Linked DNA regions of Homo sapiens: all the other regions are reported to be linked to region 4. The links are microRNA targets in miRTarBase. Many come from high-throughput screens and were not tested one by one. Region 4 holds a microRNA gene; each other region holds the end of a gene's coding sequence.

Region 1 (7,119 bases), not on the chromosome of region 4:
GCATTCATAATCCAAATGAGTTCTACAAACAGTATTATATTGTTCAACTGACTCTTTCTTAAAATTCATTTTTTCCCACTTTTTCTCTGTCTTAGAAAGCATTTGCCTGTGCGGAGGAAGACGATGGCCAGGAAGCAAATGACTGCTTGTTGATCTATGATAATGAAGGCGCAGATGCCACTGGTTCTCCTGTGGGCTCCGTGGGTTGTTGCAGTTTTATTGCTGATGACCTGGATGACAGCTTCTTGGACTCACTTGGACCCAAATTTAAAAAACTTGCAGAGATAAGCCTTGGTGTTGATGGTGAAGGCAAAGAAGTTCAGCCACCCTCTAAAGACAGCGGTTATGGGATTGAATCCTGTGGCCATCCCATAGAAGTCCAGCAGACAGGATTTGTTAAGTGCCAGACTTTGTCAGGAAGTCAAGGAGCTTCTGCTTTGTCCACCTCTGGGTCTGTCCAGCCAGCTGTTTCCATCCCTGACCCTCTGCAGCATGGTAACTATTTAGTAACGGAGACTTACTCGGCTTCTGGTTCCCTCGTGCAACCTTCCACTGCAGGCTTTGATCCACTTCTCACACAAAATGTGATAGTGACAGAAAGGGTGATCTGTCCCATTTCCAGTGTTCCTGGCAACCTAGCTGGCCCAACGCAGCTACGAGGGTCACATACTATGCTCTGTACAGAGGATCCTTGCTCCCGTCTAATATGACCAGAATGAGCTGGAATACCACACTGACCAAATCTGGATCTTTGGACTAAAGTATTCAAAATAGCATAGCAAAGCTCACTGTATTGGGCTAATAATTTGGCACTTATTAGCTTCTCTCATAAACTGATCACGATTATAAATTAAATGTTTGGGTTCATACCCCAAAAGCAATATGTTGTCACTCCTAATTCTCAAGTACTATTCAAATTGTAGTAAATCTTAAAGTTTTTCAAAACCCTAAAATCATATTCGCCAGGAAATTTTCCTAAACATTCTTAAGCTTCTATTTTTCCCCTGCCAAAGGAAGGTGTTTATCATTTTAAAATGCAATGTGATTTAGTGGATTAAGCAGGAGCGCTGGTTCTTGTCTCCATTGCCTTTTCTTATATCATTGATAATGATGTAAGAATCACAAGGGGCCGGGCGCGGTGGCTCACGCCTGTAATCCCAGCACTTTGGGAGGCCGAGGCAGGTGGATCATGAGGTCAGGAGATCGAGACCATCCTGGCTAACAAGGTGAAACCCCGTCTCTACTAAAAATACAAAAAATTAGCCGGGCGCAGTGGCGGGCGCCTGTAGTCCCAGCTACTCGGGAGGCTGAGGCAGGAGAATGGCATGAACCCGGGAAGCGGAGCTTGCAGTGAGCCGAGATTGCGCCACTGCAGTCCGCAGTCCGGCCTGGGCGACAGAGCGAGACTCCGTCTCAAAAAAAAAAAAAAAAAAAGAATCACAAGGTATTTGCTAAAGCATTTTGAGCTGCTTGGAAAAAGGGAAGTAGTTGCAGTAGAGTTTCTTCCATCTTCTTGGTGCTGGGAAGCCATATATGTGTCTTTTACTCAAGCTAAGGGGTATAAGCTTATGTGTTGAATTTGCTACATCTATATTTCACATATTCTCACAATAAGAGAATTTTGAAATAGAAATATCATAGAACATTTAAGAAAGTTTAGTATAAATAATATTTTGTGTGTTTTAATCCCTTTGAAGGGATCTATCCAAAGAAAATATTTTACACTGAGCTCCTTCCTACACGTCTCAGTAACAGATCCTGTGTTAGTCTTTGAAAATAGCTCATTTTTTAAATGTCAGTGAGTAGATGTAGCATACATATGATGTATAATGACGTGTATTATGTTAACAATGTCTGCAGATTTTGTAGGAATACAAAACATGGCCTTTTTTATAAGCAAAACGGGCCAATGACTAGAATAACACATAGGGCAATCTGTGAATATGTATTATAAGCAGCATTCCAGAAAAGTAGTTGGTGAAATAATTTTCAAGTCAAAAAGGGATATGGAAAGGGAATTATGAGTAACCTCTATTTTTTAAGCCTTGCTTTTAAATTAAACAGCTACAGCCATTTAAGCCTTGAGGATAATAAAGCTTGAGAGTAATAATGTTAGGTTAGCAAAGGTTTAGATGTATCACTTCATGCATGCTACCATGATAGTAATGCAGCTCTTCGAGTCATTTCTGGTCATTCAAGATATTCACCCTTTTGCCCATAGAAAGCACCCTACCTCACCTGCTTACTGACATTGTCTTAGCTGATCACAAGATCATTATCAGCCTCCATTATTCCTTACTGTATATAAAATACAGAGTTTTATATTTTCCTTTCTTCGTTTTTCACCATATTCAAAACCTAAATTTGTTTTTGCAGATGGAATGCAAAGTAATCAAGTGTTTGTGCTTTCACCTAGAAGGGTGTGGTCCTGAAGGAAAGAGGTCCCCTAAATATCCCCCACCCTGGTGCTCCTCCCTCTCCCTGGTACCCTGACTACCAGGAAGTCAGGTGCTAGAGCAGCTGGAGAAGTGCAGGCAGCCTGTGCTTCCACAGATGGGGGTGCTGCTGCAACAAGGCTTTCAATGTGCCCATCTTAGGTGGGAGAAGCTAGATCCTGTGCAGCAGCCTGGTAAGTCCTGAGGAGGTTCCATTGCTCTTCCTGCTGCTGTCCTTTGCTTCTCAACGGTGGCTCGCTCTACAGTCTAGAGCACATGCAGCTAACTTGTGCCTCTGCTTATGCATGAGGGTTAAATTAACAACCATAACCTTCATTTGAAGTTCAAAGGTGTATTCAGGATCCTCAAAGCATTTTAACCTTGCCGCTTAAAACCCAATTTACCGTGAAATGGGAATTTTGCTGCATTGTTAAACTGTAGTGGAAACCATGCTATAGTAATAAAGGTTATATAAGAGAGAAATTGAAATTAAATGTGTTTTTAAATTTCAAAAAAAAATCAATCTTTAGGATGACTTAAAAATTGATTTGCCATGTAAAATGTATCTGCATTTTTTACACAAAACTTGTTTTAAGCATAAAATTTTAAAACTGTACTACTTGATGTATTATACATTTTGAACCATATGTATTAAACCATAAACAGTATAATGTTGTTATAATAAAACAGGCAATAAATTTATAAATAAAAGCTGAACTACTCTCTATATTAATAGTTATTAAGAAATATGATTATAAAACAGCAGTCCCCAACCCTTCTGGCACCAGGAATCACTTTTGTGGAAGACAATTTTTCCACAGACGGCGGCAGGGATGGTTTCAGGATGAAACCGTTCTACCTCAGATCATCAGGCATTAGATTATCATAAGGAGCAGGCAACCTAGATCCCGCATATGCGCAGTTCGCAATAGGGTTCACGCTCCTGTGAGAAACTAATGCCACTGCTGATCAGACAGGAGGCGGAGCTCAAGCTGGATTGCTCACTTGCCCGCAGCTCACCTCCTGCTACGGCCTGGTTCCTAACAGGCCACAGACAGGTACTCTGGGGGGTGGGGGCAGGGTTGGGGACCCCTGATATAAAATGACTCACGTATGTATTTTTATCAGTATTTTAGCTATTTTTTCTAGCTGATTCCTTTTCTGCATCTTCCAGGCAGGAAGGAAGTATGTCAAGATTCGGGATGACTTCAGGTGGACATAGTGCAGGAGAAAGTGCTGGATGAGGTCAGGGCAGAGGGACTTTACTAACTGGATGCTTTAAGTCATTTACTGTTTATTTTGCAAGTTGCAATTGTCTCTCAGGTAACTGAGAGATCACTGTTGTGACATTCAAAAGTTGTGACATTCTAAGATGACTTGGGGAGAAAAGCTGGAGTAAAGAGAAGGTAATGTTTACAATCTAGCCTGATGAAAAATGCGTACCATGTCACTGGTGAAAGCCATCAGCCCCAGAAGTGGAACTGTTTTTCTGTAAATGCTAAAGTCCTTATGTCTCCTTTTAAAAGATGCCACAGAATAAGTCCCTCCAACGCTTCAGAACTTTCTTCTGGCTGACCTTCCTCCTTCTTAAATCTGATCAATGAGGCTTGGACATGGAGTATGGGGAGAAAAAGAAACTGGATTAAAGCAAATATTGAGTAAAGAATGGTAGTTGGCTTAACTCAAATGTTTCAAATCAATTCCAGGAAAATGAAAGTCATGTAGATAAAATCCAAAAATATTACCAGCTTCTTCTATTCATAGAAAGTTCAAGGAACGAAAGTGACAAAATCGGTTTAGTTTTACCTGAGGACCTTCATACGTGAGGTAAGAGTGTGAATGGGACACATTCAACTGACTAGTTTCAATACAACTAACAATTTAGAAACAAGTAAAAGTTAAGAATCCTTCTTGTTCTTGCATTTCCACATTGTCTCGTATCTTCTTCTGGGTCTACAAAGAGGAATACTGAATTAGAGATTATATGGTTTCACAGCGTTCAGTCACATAGTCTGAGATGGTTTTACGTAAAGGGGATAATTGATAAGACAAGAAGATACACAATCATTTAAATTCCAGAAGCCAGAAACCACACGTTTTCCACGATGAACGCTGAGACTCCTCTTGCTTTGCTGTCCAGAGTATGCTGAGATTCCCTCCCTGGCCAAAGACATCAGGCTGTTCTCTGGTTGGTGTCTTTACTTTCTTTTTCTTCCACAGTTTGATTCATTTTTACAAATAAAAAACAAAAAAATTTAGACACAATAGAGATATAGTTAAAACTCAAGAGGGTAATGTCTGAAGAACAAGTACAAATGGATGCGGTTATCAGAGCAAGAAGAAAAGAGACATTGGTGAGGGTTACCACGTGGTCAAGAGAGCTACATACTCTAATTCAATTCTAGAGTAATCCTTAGATTACAGGCATGGAAACAGAGACTCAGAGAAGCAAAATAACTTTCTCAAATTTGCACAATAAGTGACACAGATGTGAAAGTTTATCAATAATTGTCTGGAAATAATAACTATTACTCTCAGAATAATCCGTTCACTTCCAGTCTAAGACTTGAGTAGAACATTAAAAATTAGAAAGAATACAAAGAAAATGAAAATTATAAAAAGGATTACAAATCTAGATGTAATTTTAAAGATTAAATAAGTAGTATAATGTAGGCATATGTGTGTGTGGGAGGGAGAGAGAGAGAGAGTGACAGAGAGAGAGAGAAAGAGAGAGAGAGAATGCTAATACATGATGCTGCTATTTTGAAGTACATGTGGAGGTTTTTCTTTCAGGGGCCAGTGACCAGGTCTCTTCCACAACCAATAACTAATAAGAATGAGCCAAAAGCCTAAATTGCAGAAACAAGTATTTAGCTGAATTTAAATTACAATTTTTGTATTTTAATATAAAATTAAAATGCAATTTTATACAATTATAACTGATGTTGTAAGTACTGAAAAAAACTACCTGGAATCTCTTTCTCAGTCAAGTCCCTAAGAATTACTTTGATAAAGCACTATTTAGAAGAGGTTGTATGAAATGTATCCAGATATGAAATGATTACCTTAAACATGTCCTTCCAGCTCAGTGTTTCCATGATTTGTGGAAAAGAACATATTTTAACAACTACAAATTTTTTACTCCTTGAAATCAGTTTCATTTCTACTTTGATTTTCCTGAGGAACATGGTACGACTATATTTTCAATTTTATGCCTCAGAACATCTCTGATGTTTTCTGTGTGCAGAATTCATCATTACTAAATTAGCAAACAGTGAATTCTATGTGACAACACAGAGAATCAAATGATGATAATATAAGCAAAACATTGATATTGAAACAACGTGTATGTCCTCATTTCCCCAGAAGGCAGAAGAAGTATTTATGTTCTTTCATAATCAAAAGAAGGATTGCAAGGAACTTTCTTGATTATAAAGCTGTAAAGAATCAGGTAATCCTGTATTTATTCAAATGGCATAATGACATGATTTTCAATCCTGCAAGGAGACATTGTTACTAAGTGAAAAATGAGTATTTAAACACAAAATATGAGATTAACTTCAGTCATGTCTTCTCATGTCCAACTGACTTCTACTGATAATAAGATTTATATGGTCCTAACTCAGATGAAACACACACACACCCACATTCTTGCCTCAGGTAACCTCATGGCTTGGCATAGCTAAAGCAGGGTCTTTCCATTATCAAATCTATGGACCAGACACTAATGCTTAGTGGGCGCTGCAGACACAAAGTTTCTGCATTTAAGAATTCTGCTATCTAGCATTATTATTTTAGAAAATAATAATAATCACCTAGATTTTGCACCTAAATTTCTTTAGGTAAGCTATGGTGAAAAAGCCTTATTTAACCAGACTTTTAATTATTTTCAACCACGTCTGACATCCCCAACATTTAATTAGTAAAAAATATGCAATAAATCCTTAGTCTAGTAAGTTCTGACAAAATCTACCTTCCCGCATCCTCCCTCTTTTTCTCAGCTGTTATAAATTGCTATGAATTTTTCCTCAGAACATATTTTGTGGCTGCTATCTGATACCTAAGTTGATTTTCTAACTTGCCACTGTTTCTACATACACTCTCTTGGATCTGGAAATGTTCTCTTTTGTGTTGGTCTTTGAATATTCTTTCAAAGAGGCAAACTTATAATGAAGGCATATGCTACCAAGACAATAACAGACCTCCTACTTTATGCAACAAAGGCTCACCCAGGGCCTCTCAAACAAGCCAATGCATGCTATTGCTACTTTTGCCAACTCTGGCTAGAAAAGGGTATCTCCACTGAAGGAACAAGTCAGGAGATGTTCGTGAATATAGAGAATGAGTTGTCAAGCTAAGAAAACCTATTAAAGTTTGCAAAAAAAAAAAAATCACTACTGAAGGAGCTAAGAGAATTTTTAAAAATCTCATTCCATCTGTTAATCAATCAAAATAACTATATTATATTTTAATGATTAACAAAAGTTAAGGCAGGGCGCGGTGGCTCACGCCTGTAATGCCAGCACTTTGGGAGGCCGAGGCAGGCGGATCACGAGGTCAGGAGATCGAGACCATCCTGGCTAACACGGTGAAACCCTGTCTCTACTAAAAATACAAAAAATTAGCCGGACCTTGTGGCGGGCACCTGTAGTCCCAGCCACTCGGGAGGCTGAGGCAGGAGAAT
Region 2 (7,119 bases), not on the chromosome of region 4:
AAAGGAAGGGAGTGACAGGATCCACTCTTAACTGCTATGTGGACCAGCTGGAGTGGGACAAGGATAAAGACAGGAAGAACAGTTAAAAGGCTGATGTGGTAATCCAGTTTAAAAAGACAGCAACCTGCAGTAGAGTGATGGGAGTGAGAGAACAGTGAGAAGAAAGAAATTCGAGAATTTAGGAAAGAATCAACAGGACTATGGTAATTACCGGAAGAAGCTCTGAATTCAAAAATGGTCTTAAAAATTAAGTTTGTTTTGCTAAATAACCACCAACCAAAAACTTTACCAGTAGTCAACATGCTCAAATCAACATTAAAATAAGATATACTTGAGTGGTTTCATATCTAATCACTCATATGAGCACTGCCTTGCTCTTCATCTATGGAACAAATTCCTCCTAGAATTTACTACTTAGATAAAAAACTCTAAATCAGTGGTTGGCCTTTTTGTGCATGGAACCCTTTGAAAAATCTAATAAAAGCAAAAAAAGTAAACACACACAAAAAAAATGTGGCTGGGCGCAGTGGCTCACACCTGTAATCCCAGCACTTTGGGAGGCCAAGGCGGGCAGATCACGAAGTCAGGAGATCAAGACCATCCTGGCTAACACAGTGAAACCCCGTCTCTACTAAAAAATACAAAAAATGAGCCAGGCGTGGTGGCGGGCGGCTGTAGTCCCAGCTACTCAGGAGGCTGAGGCAGGAGAATGGCGTCAACCCAGGAGGCGGAGCTTGCAGTGAGCCGAGATCGTGCCACTGCACTCCAGCCTGGGCGATGGAGCAAGACTCTGTCTCAAAAACAAAAAAACAAAACAAACAAACAAAAAAACAGTGATAGATATCTAGACCCCAAGTTAAGTCCTGTTGTAAACCAACTTACATACTTCCCTTTTGTTCTTTTAGAGTTTTAATAACTTACCAAAATAATATACAGTATGAAAAAATCACTATTTTTTGAGAAATTCATTTGGTTTTTTTTTTTTGTTTTTTTTTTTGAGATAGAGTTTTGCTCTTGTTGCCCAGGCTGGAGTGCAATGGCATAATCTTGGCTCACCACAACCCCCGCCTCCCAGGTTCAAGCGATTCTCCTGCCTCAGCCTCTCTAGTAGCTGGGATAACAGGCATGTGCCACCATGCCCGGCTAATTTTGTATTTTTAGTAGAGACGGGGTTTCTCTGTGTTGGTCAGGCTAGTCTCGAACTCCCAGCCTCAGGTGATCCACCCACCTCAGCCTCCCAAAGTTCTGGGATTACAGGTGTGAGCCACCACACCTGGCCAAATCCTCATTTTATAAGACATGAATATTAATACTCTACTCTCTCCTCCTCTTATTCCCCCACCCCATTTCTTTCAGCTTCTCATTTGTCACTGGTACTTGAAAGGTTGATAGTTGCAGAAGATACTGTAAATACAAAGTTTCCTGTGCTGTTCTATAGATGAAATGCACTTCCTTGTAATCAGACAAGAACTCTATACCCAATCATGCTCCCCTTTTTGCCTTCGCAGCCAGGATTTTTAGAGGTTGATATAGCGCTCAAAATAGCTAAAATGCTTCAGCTTCCAAATGATTTATCATCTTTAGCCATCCTTTCATAGTGTTTTAATGTTATAAACTATTTCAAATCATCTTGGAAATAAGCTGTAAAAATTTAGGCCAAAGTGGCTCATTCCTGAAATTCCAGCACTTTGAGAGGCCAAGACAGGAGGATTGCTTGAGCCCAGGAGTTTGAGATCAACCTGGGCAACACCCCAACTCTACAAAAAAAAAAAAAAATTGGCCAGGCATGATGGCTCACGCCTATAATCCCAGCACTTTGGTAGGCCGAGGCAGGCAGATCATGAGGTCAAGAGATTGAGACCATCCTGGCTAACATGGTGAAACCCCGTCTCTACTAAAAATACAAAAAAAATTAGCCGGGCATGGTGGCAGGCACCTGTAGTCCCAGCTACTTGGGAGGCTGAGGCAGGAGAATGGTGTGAACCCGGGAGGCGGAGCTTGCAGTGAGCAGAGATCGCACCACTGCACTCCAGCCTGGGTGACAGAGCAAGACTCCGTCTCAAAAAAAAAAAAAAAAAAAAATTAAAAATCAGCCGGACATGGTGGTGCGTGCCTGTAGTCTCAGCTACTTGGGTGCCTGAGGTGGGAGAATTGCTTGAACCTGGGAGATTAAGACTGCACTGAGACATGACTGCACCACTGCACTCCAGTCTGGGCGACAGAGACCTTGTCTCGAAAAAATATATATATGTAAATTAAATTTGTGAGGCTGGGCACAGTGGGTCACGCCTGTAACGTCAACACTTGGGGAAGCTAAGGCAGAAGGATCACTTGAGGCCAGGCATTCCTGGGTGACAGAGTGAGACTCTGTCTCAAAAAAAATAAAAAGTAAAAACAAATAGAGGCCGGGCGCGGTGGCTCACGCCTGTAATCCCAGCACTTTGGGAGGCCGAGGCGGGTGGATCATGAGGTCAGGAGATCGAGACCATCCTGGCTAACAAGGTGAAACCCCGTCTCTACTAAAAATACAAAAAATTAGCCGGGCGCGGTGGCGGGCGCCTGTAGTCCCAGCTACTCGGGAGGCTGAGGCAGGAGAATGGCGTGAACCCGGGAAGCGGAGCTTGCAGTGAGCCGAGATTGCGCCACTGCAGTCCGCAGTCCGGCCTGGGCGACAGAGCGAGACTCCGTCTCAAAAAAAAAAAAAAAAAAAAAAAAAAAAACAAATAGAATTGTGTAAAGCACCTATGTTTGGAGCTGAAAATCAAATTTTTAATAAATCACATCAATACTGTGTTGGCTGATGTTATTTAGGAGCCTGGAAATCTAAGGAGATTGAGAGGTTAAATTCTAGTGGAGGGCGGTGGCTCACACCTGTAATCCCAGCACTCTGCGGGGCTGAGGTGAGCGGATCACCTGAGGTAAGGAGTTCAAGACCAGCCTGGCCCATGTGGTGAAACCGCCTCTCTACTAAAAATACAAAAAATTAGCTAAGCATGGTGGCACATGCCTGTAATCCCAGCTACTTGGAAGGCTGAGGCAACACAATCGCTTGAACCCGGAGGTGGAGGTTGCAGTGAGCCGAGATCATGCCGCTGCACTCCAGCCTGGGCAACATCTTCTGTGTAGTCAGTTACCGCCTACAACTGTCATTTTTCTGCCTTTTACCATTCAGTCTTTCACTTGCTCCATCCAACCACTCTGGCCTCCTTAGACTTCCTGAAACTCTGTTTCTTTCAGGTTTCTGGTCAAAAATTACTTCTTAAGAAAGGCCTTCCCCCCATCACCCTATATAAAATGACACACACATCCCACCTGTCACTTTTTTTTTTTTTTTTTTTTGGAGACAGAGTGTCACTGTTGCCCAGTGGCACAATCACAACTCACTGCAGCCTTGACCTCCTGGGCTCAGGTGATTCTCTCACCTCAGCCTCCACAGTAGCTAGATTACAGGCACACACCATGCCCAGCAATTTTTTTTTTTTTTTAAGAGATGGGAGTTTTGCCATGTTGCCCAGGCTGGTCTTGAGCTCCTGGCCTCTAGCAGTCCACCCACCTCAGCCTCCCAAAGTGCTGAGATTACAGGCATGAGCCACGTGCCTGGCCTCACCTGTTACTCTTTATCCCTAACTTTGCTGTATTTTTATCTGTACCACTTACCACTAGCTGACACTACATATTTATTTATGTATTTCTCTCCCTCAACTAGGATATAAGCTTATGAGAGCCGAGACTTTTATCCTCCCCTGCTTATCTCCAGTGTGCAGAACAGACACCTGAGTAAAATTATTAAATGAAAGAAATGAACGTAAGGAGTTTTTAGACGGAATGACATTCAAAGCATCTGTGACACTTTCAGAGACAACATAGCACAGTACTTTCACAGAGTAGTCCCTTAAGACTTGCTGAAGTTTATTTGCAAAGAGGTAAACTATTATCTGAACCCCAAATAGGTAGCAATTCAAAATTACTAGCCTTCTTTCTTCTAAGACCCAGGAGTTATGCTCCTAGAATTTTCCTCTAAACTTTGCTTCTGTCCAAAGGGCAGTTACCAATTTATTTCCCACTTCCCAAACTTCCTAGTTTCATATGACCCAAGTCCTCATCCCTGCGAACAATTCCATTCTACACCCTTGAATATCCCAGTGAGTTGAGTGACACATAGCAGGCATTCAAATTAGTGCTAAGCCAATAAAGTAAACTGTACCCTACCCCTTGAAATCCTCCTGTTTCCAACACTTTACTCATCTACTTAACTTAGATCTTGAAGCCACGAATGAAGAGATACAGCGTTAACAGTAAGCTTTCATTTTAAAAAGTGAAAACAATGTAACCACCTTGATATGCCCTCGAGCTCTTTAAGCTGTAATTCTACTTTATGAAATATACACAAAATAAGAATTGACACAGACAGACTAAGGAATGGGGGCTGAAAAGCCACAGCCAAATTCGCTATGAATCTCCTACTTTGGGGATTAGGCTCACTCAGCTACTTCATAGCCCACTTGGAAATTCGGTCATTTTTCCAGTTGCTCTTTGTTGGAGGGAAACTTTCTTAACAAGATTCTGAGGACTCCATAAAAACCGTAAGGTGGGAGGAATTGGGATCTGAAGGTCCTTGGCAAACATGTCCACTGCGGCTGCTGGAGGCAAAGCAACGGAAGTTGAAGAGACTTTGCAACAGCTGCAAGAGTTTCACTCCCGGTGCGGAGAAGGGTAGCGGAGCTAGGCTACCCCACCCGGGCGGCGTCCAGCAGCCAGGTCCCTGCTGAACCCCGAGGCCCACCTCGCTGGACCCCGGACGGGCCCCATCTGTTTCCCCTCCTTCCCCACGCTACGGCCCGCTGGGGAACGGGGCAGCGCCGGGGAGCACGACGAGGGCACGAGGTACCCTCTCCTAGCCCAGGCTCACCCTTGGTCAGCGTGTCCAGCACCCCCGACTTCTCCAAGTACCTCCGGAACTGCTCACGCTTCGAGTCGGCGGCCTGAAGAGACACCGGGGGTCAGTGGCCAGAGCCCGGGAGCCGAGCAGGAAGAAGGCGCTGGGAGTCCGGCAACCCCGCCTCCGCCTCACTACCTCGGGGCCCTCCCGCCCAAACCTGCGCGCGCGACCCCACTCCCACCCAGAGCCGACCAGCGGCTTGCTACCGCCCGCATGCCCCCAGCCACGCCGCGCCCCCCTCACTTTGTAATGGGCCATAGTGACAGCGGCAGCGGCGTAGCTGGCGCCGGAGACCGCGACTGGCGGGTTGGGAGCAGCACTGCTCATGCGCGGAAGGGGGCGCGCGCCTGCGCACTTGCAAACCACCGGCCGGGATCGCCGAGGTGTGGCCTGTTTTCATGGCGACCAGGACGCTCTGCATCCCCAGTAGCAGGCTGAGCCGAGGGAGGCTGCGTATGCCCGCCCCTCTGGCTGTCGGAGCCGCACCTCTTCCTCTTCCGGCCCCCGTAGCAATTAGGTTTCTTTGCAGGAGGTGAGATTTTGGTACCTCTGTCCTGGCGTCCGGAGGCAGGGCCCGGGAGCATTGAGACTATTGCGAGAGAAAGGACCGCCGCACGGTGGTAGCGAGCGCATCTTTTTCATCTGGGACCTCGGAAACTGTGGTGACCCATAGGTGCTGGGCTTCTTGGCTCTCGTCCTGAGAAAGTGCTCACAGTGCTTTGCAGTAGCCGAGGAGGGTGTTTAGAATCATATATTTTGGCTTCAGCTTTTATCTTTGGAGTCTCCTTGAGTCGTGGCTGACTTGATGTGGGCCTCTGGAGGATGAGCAGTAACGAGCTTGCAGTAGCTTTTGAGCCAGGCACTGTAGAAAACACGGGTATTTTAAATTTTAATCCTTACAACACCCCTGTAGGGTGGGTATTGTTAATTAAGTGGAGTGGTTAGATGTCCAGTGAGTAGAGTCGAGTCCAATCCGGGCAATGAATCACGATGCTATGAACTGGTGAAGGAAAGCCACGGATCTTCTTAAGATTTTATTTACTAGGTAGCAACATGTGATTATACTCAAGACACATCAGGATGCCAGTCTAGAAGGAAACTTACGTGATTGTGTTCCAGGGGCAAACAGAATTAACCCAGTGTCCAAGGTGGAATTGTATAGATCAAGAACCATTTCCTAAGGCTGTGGTCTCTTCAAAGAGAAAACCTGATCAAACCATTTAGCCTCAATTCTGAACATGTGATTTTCCCAAAATCAGTTACATTCGAAAGGATATCATTTAAAAAAAAAAAAATCCTGATTTGACAACTCTATGTCTTTGAATTTAGAAGTGTTGCTTCACAATCTCGAATTAGAGCTGTTTTTCTCTTGCTTAAATGAGTTTGCAGTTGTCTGTCTTAACAGCTGGTCTTTAGAGCTGCCCCTATCTATTTTTTCTGTGCCCCACGACCACTAGGCTACTTCTCTGATAATATATATAATGTCTAAAAGCCAACCGCTGTTTAGATCTGAAGATCTGTGGGAACCCGCCTACCAATGAGATTGTTCGTTAGGGACACTACGTGATTTGGAGGACAAACAGGATTATTACAGGTTCTGACCAACCCTGGCTCAAAGGACAGCCCTCCCAAAGAATCAGCAGTGTTTGGAATGTCAAGTGATTGAGAATCTCCTTGTGAAGGAGGAAGGGTTCTGACTGTGCCCTTTCTGAACTGGCCCTTGAGGTTACCTTTAGGAGGTGACCCCCGGTTTTCATGTTCTGTAGAGGAACCCCATGTAGCTCTAAGCCACCGCGGTTTCCAATCGCAGTTAGCTGGCAAGGAGAAAACTGTTTGGGGTGACTGCCTCATGTTGTTCTCTCCATCTATAGCAACACCTGGAATAGAACGGTGACCTCTAGAGTAGTAGTTCCTTTTGCTGTCTTTGCCTTCAGTTTCTCTTTTTTCCATTAACTGGTTACCATTAAGTTCTTTTCCAAATATTTTATGAGTGTCTTTGTTATTGTTTGAACTGATGTGTTGAAAATGACTACAACTAGTACTAAGTGTGGAAATCTCATTAGAAAGTACAGTTTCCTGTTCATCCAAAATGCATTTCTCATCATTTACACTATGATTGTCAGGATTTGGCTGGAATACAGAAGATGAATTTAAACTAGGGTACACTGCAGTGTGTGTTT
Region 3 (7,119 bases), not on the chromosome of region 4:
CCTCGCTAGCCCAGGTCATACAGCTGCTGGGGTCTGAGGAAGGCCAAGCCCCAGCAGGCTGGCCAGAGCCACCTTCAGCTGCCAGGCCCACAGCTCACCCACAGCCACTGACCAGGCAGCAGTGGGGATGCCCCACGTCAGCCTCTGCCCACAGGGCAGGACCACAGAACACATCCTGCCCTCCCTCCGACCCCCCCGCCACCCCACGCCAACTCTGCCCATGCCTATTTGGCAAGCCCCAGACAACACTCCTGGCAATGCCAGGAGCAGCTTTCAGGTCTGTGGTCCCCACACAAAGGCACCCAGCCCCACCCAGTCACACGACAGGGTGCCACTGCAAAGCCTAAACCGGAGATAGGGCCCTGCATCATCTCCCGACCACAGAGATGGGGCTGAATGCTCTGTACTTACACACCTGAAAAACCAGTTCCTTTCACTTTGCCATCCTAGCCTCTCATGAAATTGTACTCAAAAAAGAAAGCCACAGGATGCGTTCTTGTTATCCCTATGACAAGCAACTTAGAGCAACAGCACTGCCAGCTACCAGGCTGGCCGATCTTCACCCCAGCCCCCGGGGGGTTCTGATAAGGATGTAGGGGAGTGAGTCACCTGACCAGTGCACCACCCAGCTGGGGGCAGGGCCGCAGGGCCACACTTGTGGGAGGCAGACAACATGCATGGCCACTGCAGGGGGAGGAAAATCTGGAGTCTGGAGCAGAAGGAAAGTGGCTGGGGTGTCCAGAGCACTTCCCCACTGAGCTGGTGGACAGAGGAACTTCCAGGCATGTAAGGGAGGGTGCTGAGGGCCGGGCCCTGGTGTCTCCTGGCCCCGAGTGGAAGGTGAGGCTTTGCCAAGTGCAGCAGGTGGGCTAATAAGCCTGATGGTGGGGGGACTGAGAGGACCAGACCAGGGTGCGAGAAGAGACATGAGGTGGCTGTGTCGCAAAGGCCAGCACCTGAAGCGGGGGAAGGTGGAGCAGTGGAGGCTGCCCAGCAGGCCCCTGGGTCTAGGTGGACACTGCATAGGAGGGTGCAGTGGGCCTCATGCCACCAACCGCACCCCATGGAGGCAGAGGGGCCACAGTCCTGGAGGGTGGGGGGCCTTGCAGATTCAGCGATGCATCGGGGCACGGCGAGGACCATTTCTTGGCTGGGGCTTTGGCAAATGACCTCACCTCCCCCACCTCAACTCCTCAGAGCACGCCCTCGGACATCTCATGGCTGGGTTCACAGCCTTCAGAGGGGAAGATGCCCGGACGTGTGAGGACTTGCCCACTTCTGGTGTCAGAGCTCGGGCCCTGGAGGTCAGGTTCCACACAGCCAGCAGCGCTCACAGTCCAGGCATGGGAACGGGGGCACAGGAGGGGCACAAAGGTGGAGAGCCCCATCTCCCTGACGCTCCTATGGGATCCCCGAACCAGTACGCCCACCCAGCAGAGGGCAGGGCTGGGACATTCAACGGGGTGAGGCCAAGGGCAGGGGTTACAGATGTTCACCAGGGGATGACGAAGGGCATGGGCCAGCTGCCTCGGGGGCACCAGACCTGCCTCGGGGTACCAGACAGTTGGCACTGCCCAGTGGGTGGGTTCGGTGGGTGTTGAGGCCTGGAAGGTGTGTCTGGGATGGTGAGGGGGTACAGGCTATGGCTGGCTGAGTGGTGCCGGGGTTTGGGGGAGGAAGCTGGTGTTTCCTGCCTCTGCAGGGAGGTTCACCTTGCTTTGTCCCCTCAACAAAGCCAGGCTCTCGTGACAACGGGTCACAACCTGGACAGATCTGAGGAGCTGAACACCTCCAGCTTCCACAGGGCTCAGCCAGGACCTGGGCCCAACAGCATTCCCTCCCAGATGGGGCCACCACGCCACATCAGCACGACGAGACCTCCTCCCAGGGTGCCCCCCCCAGCCCAGGGTCCAGGCCCCAGGCCAACACCCAGAGGGGCTGGCTTTGTTCACAGCCCCTCTCCAAACCCTGCCCCCACCCCAAGCGGCCCCGCGGTCCCCTCCAGGGCAGGGTTTCCAGAATCCACCTGTCCTTAGTGTGTTCACTGCCCCTTGGCAGCCCCGAATTTTTGTACCTGTTTCCTGTCCCCTCCTTGTGTCCAGGTAGCATCCCCAGGGCCCTCGCCTCCAGCACAAATTCCAGCCTGCAGAAACCTTGTCAGCTCAGGGGGCCACGGTGCAAGGCACGCCCAGGGGAGGGAAGCTGGGGCTGCCCTGGGGTGCCTTTCTGTGCAGCTGGAGCAGTTCCATATCCTATGAAGAAACTGGTACAGAACAGCACTCCTCTGAAAAATTAGCAACCTCATCTACACAGAGACTGGACTGGAGAAGCCCCAGCAGGTGCAGCAATCCCAGAAGTGAGAGTCAGAGCTGTGGACGCCACCCTTGCTGTGGCCCAAGCAGTGAACTGGGGCCGCTAACCCCCAGGAAGGGTGAAAAGCCCCAACACCCAGAAGATGAGACCCTAGAGCTTCCCTGGCCACCCCAGCAGCCCTCCCCATCCCAGGAAGCAGACAGTTGCATGGGAAAAGCAAGGACGGCACTCAGCCAGACAGGCAAACAACTGTGGCAAACCAGTGCCAGCAGACAAAACCCAGAAACACAGAGCAAATGAAATGGTAAAAATCACTGTCAACCCCCAAGGTTATCTGCGCAGAAAGGGTCCATACAGTGGGGACGGCCGTCCTGAGGCCCGCTGGCCGGGCTGGCCCTTGGCTGGCGTCTGGGAACTGGGATTTCCGAGGGGCTCCCTGAACCCCGCCTCACTGGGCCTGTGCTATTTGTACAAGGTGGTTTAGGCAGAACACTCACATCCCTGCTGAGAGTCTGGAATTGTAGCGCAGCCCAGGCAGAAGCTGCTCACGTGACCAGCCCCCGGGTACATCACCAGGCAGGGCATCCCCAACATCGCACACGCAGAGTCCCAGCTGCTTGCAGGGGAGTGAGGCGCATCCTGCGTGACCCCCACCCCAGGAGAGGCCTCCAAAGCTGAGCATGGTGCCCCTGGACTCGGCCCCAGGAACCTTTCCCTTGGCCGATTTTGCTCAGTGTCCTCCCTGTGGGAAATCACAGCCGTGACTACCGTGACCTGCATGGCCTCTGTCCTCCTGGAGAATCGCCGCCCTGGGTGGTCTTGGGGACCCCAACTCAGTATCACATTAGAGTTCTTACCCATTAAAAAGAATGCTTAGTGAGAACACTGGGCAAAGGGCAGAACAGACATGCCTGGGGGCCTGTGCTGAGGCACTCGCCCAGTGCACCCCACCAGGAGCAGCCTGGGAACCAGCCCAGGGAACGAGGCGCCAGCACCTGGGGAAGCCTGGGGACCCTGCCTCACAGGATTACAAAGGAAAGCTGACCGCCAACTACCAAAACAGAAACAGCAAATCACTGACACAGGAATCTGCCTCTTTATTGACATGCTAAGTAACAAGACGCAGAGGCAGGTCTCATCGCAACCAACCGTGACCACAGAGGACCACAGAGGAGTGATGACAGGGAGCTGTGCTTCTAAGCAACTGCAGGAGGGAAGCGCAGTCGGAACAGCCTGCTGGCTTCTAGTGGTCAAATGTGCCACTCACACAATGGCATCTGCTGAAAAAGCTGCAAAATGTCATTTATAGGTTAGTGAACACATCCGTCTCACAGACCCCAACTAACCTGAGAATTCCAGAGGAAGACCACAGAATGACAGAAGGGAGATCAGAAACAGAAGAAAACATGCCAGAGCTAACCCAAGTCTGCAGAAAAGCCCCCACCGTGAGGAATCCCAGCTGGGATGATCTGGTGTGCTCCCTGGGGGCAGTGGCCACAGGCTCCTCTGACAATACGACAAAGGGACACACACTGCAGGGCAGGGAAAACACAGAACTTTATTTCAACAGTCATTAGGTTCCACCACACAACAGGGACACCATGGGATTGTTTTTTCATTTAATAAATACAAATGAATAAAAATACTTTATTTTGTCAAGAGACTGCCTCTCCTCCCTCTCCCGATCTCACAGAAGCCTCCAGGCAATTGTGTGCCCCTCCAGGGCCTGCACCCACAGACCCCGTCTACTTGCACAAATGACTCTTCTTTACAGAGAGGGCTCCATCTCATTTGCCTGCAAATACAACATAGGTATAATACCGCTCCTTTCCCCCATCTCCTTCCAAATACGAGTTCTTGCCCTGCGTTCCATTTTTTTTTTTTTTTTTTTTGAGACAGAGTCTCACTCTGTTGCCCAGGCTGGAGTGCAGTGGCGTGATCTCAGCTCACTGCAAGCTCCGCCTCCTGGGTTCACGCCATTCTCCTGCCTCAGTCTTCAGAGTAGCTGGGACTACAGGCGCCCGCCACCACGCCCGGCTAATTTTTTGTATTTTTAGTGGAGACAGGGTTTCACTGTTAGCCAGGATGGTCGCGATCTCCTGACCTCATGATCCGCCCGCCTCAGTCTCCCAAAGTGCTGGGATTGCAGGCGTGAGCCACAGCACCCAGCCTCCAAATTTTAAATGAGCCCCTTGTGAGAAGGAAAAGAATCTGCTGTCCACAGAAGCCAGGCGTGGAGCTACTTCAACCAGAAACTGTCACCCATGACACTCTGTGTGGGTTCAGTCACACAGACCACGATCCATTATGGAAGGGAGGGAGAAAAGGATCACATCAAATCTACTGTATGCCTCATAGACCATCCCTTATTTCAAAAATAGAAATTCCTATTTAAATGCCGCCCGTGTGCGACAGGCCTGATATTTGCTTCTGCATGTGGCAGATCTGTTATTGCTTACACTGTGGCCTCCTGGCCTGTGCTGCTCAGCTGGCCCTGTTAGAGAACATGGGAACCACATCAAAATCCTAAGTCACAAAACAAGGGCTCTGTCCCCAGCCTGGGCCCAGGGGCCCACATGCCCACCTCCACAGCCCAGTCAAGTGTGGGGATAAGGCACTCCTCTGTGCTCTGAGCTAAGATATGGTAGAGTCCCTTCTGAATTTTGAGTTGCAAAGAATGATTTTGTGCTAATAAATTCCCAGTGCATCCAAAATGTACAAAAACCCTAGAATTTCCAGTTTTTAGATTGAAAAAAAAAAATTTTTTCTGTAGATCCAGAAGAAACTTTCATTGAAACTTTAAAGACCTCACCTGCACCTGCTCTAGTAATGCACTAGTTACTAATATACAAACGTAAATCTTTGATGAGTATGGTCGGGAAAAAACTGTCTGTCCTTGTGATCAGCAATAAATTTCTTTTTTCTTTTTGAGACTGAGTCTCGCTCTGTTGCCCAGGCTGGAGTGCAGTGGCGGGACTTCAGCTCACTGCTACCTCTGCCTCCCGGGTTCAAGCGATTCTCCTGCCTCAGCCTCCTGAGTAGCTGAGACTACAGGCGTGCACCACCACGCCCAGCTAATTTTTTGTAATTTTAGCAGACATGGGGTTTCACTGTATTAGCCAGGATGGTCTCAATTTCCTGACCTTGTGATCTACCTGCCTTGGCCTCCCAAAGAGCTGGGATTACAGGCACGAACCACCGCACCTGGCCAATCAGCAATAAATTTCTTTTCTATTTACCCCATTTCTTATTAATTCACACTTCAAAAAAGCATTTCCTGGAAGTATTTCTAAGTGTGATGGTTTGTAATATATAACAAATGAAAAGATGTAATTAGATTATAAGAAAAGCATCTGCCTGTAAAATATGAAGGAAGAAAGGAAGTAATGGACTCCTCATGGGGCCCACAGGGAACCAGGAAGGACCCAGAAAGGGTGCCGGGCCCTTCCCCTGTGCTGCAGCTACAGGGCCCCATTTCTTCAGAAGGAGCGTTCTGGGTATTCCATCGTCCCCTGGAAGTCTGGCAGGTACAACCCCCTCAACACTCCAGGGAGGGAGGGAATCCACAGGAAGCCATGAACTGCTGGTTTCAGCGGGGAGAGGTAGTGCTGACAGCTCTGATAATCTACCTGAAGCCCTTTGTGAGGAATACTGTAAAACTGCAGTAAGCTGTCAATATTCGACATTAAGTCATCATTTCAGAAGAGAAGCCTGTTTGAAGTAGGAAAGGTTTGAAAAAAAAAAAAGATGCCATGGTTCTTGCAAGTCTGCCTTGTTTGGTACCAGCACAGAGCATCACTGTCACTAAGTGTGCCGGGGGAGAATGCTGAGCTGCTTGGCGGTGTGTGCGCGCCTGTGCGAGGCCAGGTCTCACAGTCCCAGAGACTTCTGGACGATCTGCTTGGCAATCTTATAGAACTGCTCCCGGTCATCGCGCCACATTTTGGACGCATCCACGTTAGCTCCACTTTCGTCATTGGGCTCTGAAAGAAAAGGGAACACCCTCCATGTAAAAGGGAGTCTTATACGTAAGCAGCCTGGCAAGGTCTCCCATTTATTTAAAACACTGGCGGGGGCTTTCAAGAGCTGTGTCCCAGAAACAAAGAACCTGAGAACTGCATGGGGTCGGCCCCACCTCTAGAGTGCTGGCCACGCAGGTCTCAACGAAAGCCACTCTCATGACTCCTGCGTTCTGAGTGTCTGAAGACACCAGGACAAGTTGTCATCTGTCTTGCTGTGGAACATGCGACAACCACCTAAGCACAGGCCCACACGGCCTCCCACAGCAGCCTCCTGGGCCACTGCACTTCTGGCACCCGGACAAGCTACACGGGGACCACCTGCTGCTTATTTCACCTTTCTCAAGACACTCTGCAGTGTGGCTTCTCTCTCACAGAGCGCCCTCTCAGCAAAACTGCCCCTCACAGCTCCTACCAAGACAATCCCAAGCAAATGTGCAGCCTAAGGTAGACACCTGACCCCAGGATACCTGACCCACCCCCTAGCCAGCGGCACTGGCAGTCACTGCAGAACTGCAGTTAGGAGGCACGGAGGGAGTAGCCAGGGCCTGCCGGAAGGCAGAACGGAGAGAGACCACCAGAACTGGATGACATGTGCTGAGGCAGCAGCTGTGCAGTGCGGCGGTGGCGCTGCTCAGAATGCACGTGGGGACCGGTTCAGAGCAGAGTTGATGAGGATAAAACCCACAGCTGACATCTGAGGACAGCCTGAGCCACTGCCTCCCTCCCAATCTCCAATCCCCTGGCCTGGCTCCCTCCACTCAGCACATGAAGAGGGTTCACGCCT
Region 4 (7,119 bases):
GTGGTGATAGATGTTGCAATAGCATTGCTAGATAAATAAATAACCTAAAATAACATTTGGAGAAAAGCTAGTATTCAACAAAATAACCTGCATGGCCTTTTAAGTAATGAATTAACTTACCAAGAATCTTTGGGATCTAATTTCTTCAACCAATTTACTTTAGGGTCCTAGAAGTTGAATTGTACAAAGTACAGTTACATTTTGACACCTGATCCAAGACACAGTAATGTATACCACATTACAATGTTTCAGTCAATATACAGCACATAAAAAAAGTGGTCCTATAAGAGCTGAAAATTCCTTATTAAATGTTATTTCTAATATTGAAAAGTCAACATTTTTCTCCTACATTTTTACTCATAAACATAGCAAAATGTTACAGGTCTCATTGTCACCACTGCAATATGCATACTGTGATGGAAGCATAACCTGTCTCAATTTAGCCACATTAACTATTTTTGGACACCATGATCAACAGTGCCCATTCTCTAGAATGAGGCATTGTAAAAGTCTTTAAAGCTTAGTAGTGTATTTGTACGAAGTTCTTGTTATGCTGGCAGTGCTACTGATAGAGGGAAACAAGCAGAATCAATAGAAACAGAGAATCTTACCTTTTTACTGTAGGTGGTGGGGATCTACCTGGTTCTCAATTTGACACCCTGGAAAAAAAAGCATTGCTTACTATTTTAGAGTATATCAAACTGAACACTCTGAGAAACCTACACAAATACTGTATCAGTAGAAATACCAGGTTTAACAAGCACAAAGCCAAGAAAACCAACGATGCCAGATACTGAATTTCTATAGCACTGACCTTTGAACACCCTAGCAGGTGTAAACTGCTGAGTGCAGATACCATGCAGTGCAATTATGACTGAACTGTACAACTCGTATTCCCAAATTTGCAATATTGCTGAGAAATGCTTTCACAAACCTCTCAAATTCCTTTAACAAGTACAATAATTTGAGCTTTTTTCCTAATTGTCACTGTAATAAGGAAGCTACATTAACTACATTTTAAGCTACAACTCTAGTCTTTGCCTAATCTTTGCCCAGTCTCTCTATAAAACTTAAAGATGGAATATATACATGTAACTTAACAGATCAGACAACAAACGTCAAGCTCATTGTTGCTCAAACTGCCAGTTACACAAAATTCTTTTTATGTAATTCATATCCCTATTGATTCAACATATCCACACAGGTTTACGTGACTTTAGGATGAAATATGTGTAACTGCCAGTTGAATAATGATGCAAAGAACACAGGTAGTTTCGTTTGGTAGGTATAGACATGCAGTCTCTTCATTTTCCTTCTCTATACAAATATATACATTGTAATATTTTTGCCAGTATCTTACTAATTCTGTGTTATACCTGAAATACTGGGATGGTGTAATTTCTATTTTTCATCTTTTGAGTCCTTGATTATTATAAGTTAAATATTTTACTTACCTCTCAACATGAATGAGTTCAAATCACATTCATTCCTATAGAAAGTACCAATTAAAGATTTAGAAAGGATACATTTCCAGTTATTAAAACTAAAACCCAAGTATAAATTTAAGATCCAGTTTATTATACAGCCATATCCAGCTCTGTCAGAATTAAGTTTTAGTTCATGCCCGTTATCATTCAGCAGTTGAACAGTTAAATTCATCATCTGAACTGTAATCATTATTTCCCAAAAGATTATACTGTCACCAATTAAAACTTACCTAAGCGATCACTCAAGAATGGTACAGATGTGTGGAGTATGCCAATACCTAAGGTAAAAAAGTAGATTATCTGGTTTTTCATAACGTTTAGCAACCGTCTTTTTCAAACTTTTAGCAACTGTCTTGTAATTCCTTCCCACAGATCTAACAATAGTCCTGTGAGTAAAGTAAAACCACAGAGTTACTCTATGAGGCGTTTCCAACGATGTGCAGGCTACAGGAAAAGCCCCATCGGGATAGACCTCAACCACTATTTACAAGGTTTTGATTTTTTTTTAAAGACACAGGATCTGCCATGTCTTTTAAAAATCGTGTGATTCTTGCTGAATCACTTGAGCCCAGGGGTTCGAGGCTACAGTGAGATGTGGCAGGATCACATCTCACTGTAGCCTCAAACCGCTGGGCTCAAGTGTTTCTCCTGCCTTAGCCTCCAGAGTAGCTGGGGACCACAGGCACCACTGTGTCCAGCTAGTATTTATACACATAAATAACAAAGTCTAACACTCCATAGGAAAGAAATTATGAGCAGAAACTGCAATATGCTCTTACAATATTGCCAACTGCAGAAACTTCCTACTACGTTAATCACAAAAACAATAATTTCACAATCACGTTGTGCTTAGGAGCCAGAGGAATGATAAATAAAAAGTAACATCAAGTAGCTCCTTTACATGAACCAAAGGAAAAAGATTTAAACTTAAGATTTAAGTTTAAAGTCTAACTGTTGTTATGAACTTCAGTATTGCAACAGAGGATGTTGTTTTCCCAATTCGAAGATTTCAGCAAATTTTAATTCTTGGCTCAAAATTAATTGTCATCCATTATAAAATACAGGAATATAATGTGCCTGTAAGTTACGACTTTGGCATTATATAACTTTTAATCAAACTCTACATCATTCAAATTTATGAATTCTTATGACCTGTGTAATCATCTTTTATTATACTATATTTTGCATTAAACCATAAAATCCTCTGCCTCATTTTAGATTGTGCATTAATTCAAAATAATGCTGTAGGCTTCAAGTAGGAAATCCAAAGTTCTGATTATTGCTACAAACTAACAAATTCAGGACCCTCTAATGCTTGCAACTAAAATGAATCTGACACATCACTATAAAATGTGTGAATCTAGGATTCTTCTTTTCAGAAATCAGTATAAATGGGAATTAAAAGCATGGTAGAAATGTCCCTGAATAAAATGAAACTTGCTCTGACAACATACTGTTTCCTACACATAAACAAATATGATGTGAAAACTCAAATTGAGACATACCTTTAACTCCAGACACCATGTTCTCAAGATAAAAGCCTTTAAAACAAAAAGCCATTGTGTATATCATCAACATGAAATTGGAATGCAAAATTAATACTGCTGAGGATTTCCCTCATATCCCATGCTGTTTATCTATTCTACAGGCCTGGAATCAACCTTTTTTTCTTAAGAGACAGGGTCTGTCTTTGTTACTCAGGCTGGAGTACAGTGGTGCCATCAAAGCTCAGTGCAGCCTCCAACTCTGCCTCAGCCTCCCCCCTTTCTGAGTAACTCCAACTACAGGCACATGCCCCAGTACCCAGCTAATTTTTAAATTTTTGTGGAGATGTGTTTCTTACTTTCTTGCCTAGGCTGGTCTTGAACTCCTGGTTTCAAGCAATACTCCCACCTTGGTGTGGGGATTGCAGGCTTGACCCATTGCACCTGGCCTGGAACCAACCTTTATGGCTATCAATACTCCCATCAATCAACTGTCTCAGGTATCATAATATCCCTTCTTATATGTATCAAAACTCATACTGAACAATGAGTTCTGGGTTGCAAAAGAGGATTTATTTTTTGCACCTATCTGTAAGTCTTTGTCCACGTTAAACAAAAACATACATAAGTGCAGTCCCAAAATGCACTACATAGCAGAGTAGTCAGCTCTATCGTGGTGATCAAAATAATGAACATCGGGGTAATGACTGGTTCTCCCCAGGTATACATGTTGAATAAATGTGTATGCCTTTTCTTGAACTAATAAAAAGTGAAAATGGTAGTTAAAAGTAGTATTAGGCCAGGTGCCATGGCTCACACCTATAATCCCAGCATTTTGGGAGGCCAAGGCAGGCGGATCGCCTGAGGTCAGGAGTTCGAGACCATGGTGAAAGCCTGTCTCTACTAAAAAAACAAAAACTAGCTGGGTGTGCTGGCTAACGCCTGTAATCCCAGCTACTAAGGAGGCTGAGGCAGAATCGCTTGAACCCGGGAGATGGAGGTTGCAGTAAGCCAAGACTGCGGCCATTGCACTACAGCCTGGGTGACAGATCGAGACTCTGTCTAAAAAAAATAGTATTAAAGATACTCTAAATTTGGAAAGGGAAATGAGGTTATTACAATACTAAGCATCTGACAGGTCACTTGTCATGGCTGAACAAAGCTGGGATAAAATTACAGCATTTCAAATCCCCTCTTCAAGATGGTTGGGTGTCAAGTTACTTTAAGATTTTCTTTTCAAAATTAAAATCACTACATTTCATTGTTTCAATACTCACAGGACACCTGTAAGCTCTTATTCAGAAATCAAATGACAATTTCTCAAATTTTTCTATGTATTTTCTCTGGTGTTTTAATGGTTTTTTTTCTAATTATTACTACTTCACAAGTTTCTTTCACAAACTTCTTCACAGGGTTAAAAATTTTTTTTCTTGTTATAAAGTTCTGGGTTTCAGAATTTCTTCACCACCAGACTGGTACATATATCCACATTTATCTTTATTCATTTCTATGAAGTCGTTTTTTCTATATGCTTCACCTTTGACATTCATGATCCTGTCACATTTTCAGGCCTCTCTGTCCAGTATTTTTGGCTTTTGTAGCTCTCTTTTTAGACAAAGCAGCTTCTTCAGTAATATCCTCTTCTTCTAAGTATACACTCAGTCTTACAGGGAATTCAGAACTTACTATGAAACTATCCCCCTGCATAAAACAAACAAAAAATCATGGATTAAGCAATAACTCAAATAGTTTAGTAATTACATATAGCTGAATGCCCTGGATTACTTCAGATAACCTAGAGACTACATGTAGATGTTAAAAATCCAAATTAACATTGCTTATTTTTTCATTTGACATCCTAACTAGCAATAATATGTATCAGAATGCTACTTATTAAAAATAGTACTGAAAACCCCATGTTCTTTATCAAGTCTCTAAAAAATTATTTTCCTTCTTGCATTTCCTGCAGTAAACTTATAGAGCTTTTCAAAAGTTAAATGAAGTGTAAGAGAAAAACTAAATATAATTCCTTCTGTATCAACCAACTCCTGCCTTCCCAAAATGGAATAGGAAAAAAATAAGTCACTTACTGCCAATTTGATATCACATTCGTTATCTTCAAGATGTGTTGCATCCTCATCCTCTGCTCTGTAATATTAAAATTTATCATCGAGATGACAGAATCTTCGATGACCTAATTAGTTGTATATTCCACTCTGAAATATAACTGAAACTGCAATACTAGTCAAAGGAAACACAAAATTTGAGAATTTTGTGTTCTGGAGAATTCTAGATGAACGGTGTGCCAAGCTTGGCTCAACTGTAATAATCCCAATTGTCATACTCTGTATCTTTGTTCATTATTTAAGTATAACTATATTAAAGGCAAAATATGAAGCAATTAACATAGAAATTTAATTTATAACCTATTACCAAAGTATTTCATATGATTCCACTTACGTTGACTCCTCAATAGGAGAAATGGATCCATCATCATCCAAAAATTTGTATCTACGACTGTCAAAATCTTCATTTTCTAAATCTTCACCAACATTCATTTGCTTCAATGATTCTTTCAGGTGGTGTTCATACTTCAGTTTTTCAATATAGTTAAAAAATCCTCTTGCAACAGCTTGCTATATATTAAAAACACCATAAGTATGTCGAGATTTTATTTTTAAGACCCAGCAGGTGCCTATGTTCAAAAAGGGCAATGCCCCCCCTTAGCAAAGACTCTGAATTTGCTATCTTAACTACTCCCCACTTGTGGACTTATCAAATGCTGATTATTAAAATTCACATTACAATTATGAATTTACCTAAGCTGGTAACATGGAAAAGTGAAGTACATATCTTGTCATGTCTGGGACTTACTAAAGGCATTTTAAAATGTAAAAACAGGAATAAGATTTCTAATGTTTACTATAATCACCTTAAACTTAAGAGATTAACTGAAGAGATTAACATGTATTAATCCTCCCAAATAAAATTTCAGGTTCTGGCAAGGGATCATAAATTAATTCTGAATTCATTCAACATACAACTCTCAAATATTTAAAAAAGTCTACTCCTAAGTATTAGCGTATTTTTCAGATAATTGGCTTAGAAACATCTAGGCCTTAAGAATATATCCACTGAACATAAGGCATGTGTGGTTTTAGTTTAGGTTACTGCAAAAGTAATTTCAAGTTATGTGAGCTTTTATTATCCCCACTGAGTTTTAGGGTTGTGTTTAAAGACCTGAGATGGGATAAGATCAAAGGATTTTATACAAAGAGCCTTGGAGCACTATCTTTTAAATATGGCAAAGTGTAGTTATATTAAGAGATACAAGTCAAGATTCAGTTGAAGGATAGGGTGGACTTTAGGGGTAAGTCAGTATAGAAGAGTATCAAAATTGCAGACAGTCTGTTCCCAGTATATCTGAGACAATTCTAAATTGGCCAACAAATCATTTTGGGCATCTTGAGTTATGTGTAGCCATGTATGTAAAATGCTGACTCACCTCAAACGTTAAAATTTTTCTCCAAGGTGCGTTTTTTTCATTCTCTGATTCTAAAAATGGGAAGCCAGATCCTCTGCTTCTAAATTGTTTCTTCTTATCTATTAGTGAGTATATAGGATTTCTCCTTCCTTCTGGTCTTCCCCGTGGTCTTCCTGTTGGCTGGTACCTCCTCTTTTTCTTTTTTTTATATCTCTTTTTCCTGTTCTTGAATCTTTCAAAAATAGCTTTTATAGTCAATGGTATTGGTTCAAAAGATGAGTCACTTGATGAATCACTTGCGTGAACACTTTCAGGTGTACGAACAAATTTTCGAATGGGGTTTCTTTTCTCCCCTTTAGGTGAGTAAGGGATACACTGAGTTTTAAATAAGCTGCTATCAGAAGAGTTATCACTAGAAAAATGGGAAAAAAATTAATTTCATCTTCTTTTCTTACTGCTTATTACCATTAATACCCAGTCCTAAATGTACATTTCTTCCAAGACCAACTCAGAAAACATGCCCAGAATTAAAAATTTTTTAAAGGATGGGCTCAGAACCAGCTAGCCTTTCTACTGATCATCCTATTTAAATAGCCCATAATGCTACAGCTCTTATTAAAGAGTTTTGTAGACATCGTCTTGCTGTCACCCAGACTGGAGTGCA

What was found. Region 4 holds the annotated microRNA hsa-miR-1304-3p (UCUCACUGUAGCCUCGAACCCC, at 2,059-2,080, opposite strand). A microRNA usually pairs through its seed, bases 2 to 8, with sites in the 3' UTR of a target mRNA and lowers its output. Matches are read on the target gene's strand: a 7mer-m8 pairs with bases 2 to 8, a 7mer-A1 pairs with bases 2 to 7 and ends in A, and an 8mer does both.
Region 1: miRTarBase lists DSG3 as a target of hsa-miR-1304-3p. Seed matches in the 3' UTR shown: 7mer-m8 at 1,349-1,355 and 7mer-m8 at 1,797-1,803.
Region 2: miRTarBase lists GJA9 as a target of hsa-miR-1304-3p. The part of its 3' UTR that is shown has no 7-base or 8-base seed match.
Region 3: the mRNA of UBE2G2 is a reported target of hsa-miR-1304-3p. Seed matches in the 3' UTR shown: 7mer-m8 at 5,296-5,302, 7mer-m8 at 4,259-4,265 and 7mer-A1 at 4,215-4,221.

Annotation. Positions count from the first base shown.
Region 1 is chr18:31,475,551-31,482,669 of GRCh38, forward strand. It overlaps DSG3 (desmoglein 3), which reads left to right. Exons shown (of 16, transcript NM_001944.3): 16 at 96-3,152. The coding sequence ends at 710. Among named protein-coding and RNA genes, the nearest start is that of DSG2, 19 kb to the right of the region's middle.
Region 2 is chr1:38,868,109-38,875,227 of GRCh38, forward strand. GJA9 (gap junction protein alpha 9) reads right to left here. Exons shown (of 2, transcript NM_030772.5): 2 at 5,961-7,119. The coding sequence ends at 6,443. MYCBP (MYC binding protein) reads right to left here and starts at 5,240. Exons shown (of 5, transcript NM_012333.5): 1 at 5,183-5,240; 2 at 4,910-4,982. The coding sequence starts at 5,197. All of the region lies in intron 1 of RRAGC-DT (RRAGC divergent transcript), which reads left to right. The region is part of intron 1 of GJA9-MYCBP (GJA9-MYCBP readthrough); the gene reads right to left. RefSeq lists an enhancer at 4,274-4,796.
Region 3 is chr21:44,765,194-44,772,312 of GRCh38, forward strand. UBE2G2 (ubiquitin conjugating enzyme E2 G2) reads right to left here. Exons shown (of 6, transcript NM_003343.6): 6 at 3,387-6,296. The coding sequence ends at 6,184. Among named protein-coding and RNA genes, the nearest start is that of UBE2G2, 33 kb to the right of the region's middle. RefSeq lists enhancers at 463-1,226, 1,227-1,990, 3,832-4,332 and a silencer at 3,241-3,535.
Region 4 is chr11:93,731,633-93,738,751 of GRCh38, forward strand. MIR1304 (microRNA 1304) reads right to left here and starts at 2,132; the gene lies at 2,042-2,132. It overlaps TAF1D (TATA-box binding protein associated factor, RNA polymerase I subunit D), which reads right to left. Exons shown (of 6, transcript NM_024116.4): 3 at 6,477-6,867; 4 at 5,432-5,607; 5 at 5,062-5,119; 6 at 3,935-4,672. The coding sequence ends at 4,529. It overlaps SNORA1 (small nucleolar RNA, H/ACA box 1), which reads right to left and starts at 501; the gene lies at 372-501. It overlaps SNORA8 (small nucleolar RNA, H/ACA box 8), which reads right to left and starts at 867; the gene lies at 729-867. It also overlaps SNORD5, SNORA18 and SNORA40. RefSeq lists an enhancer at 6,286-7,119.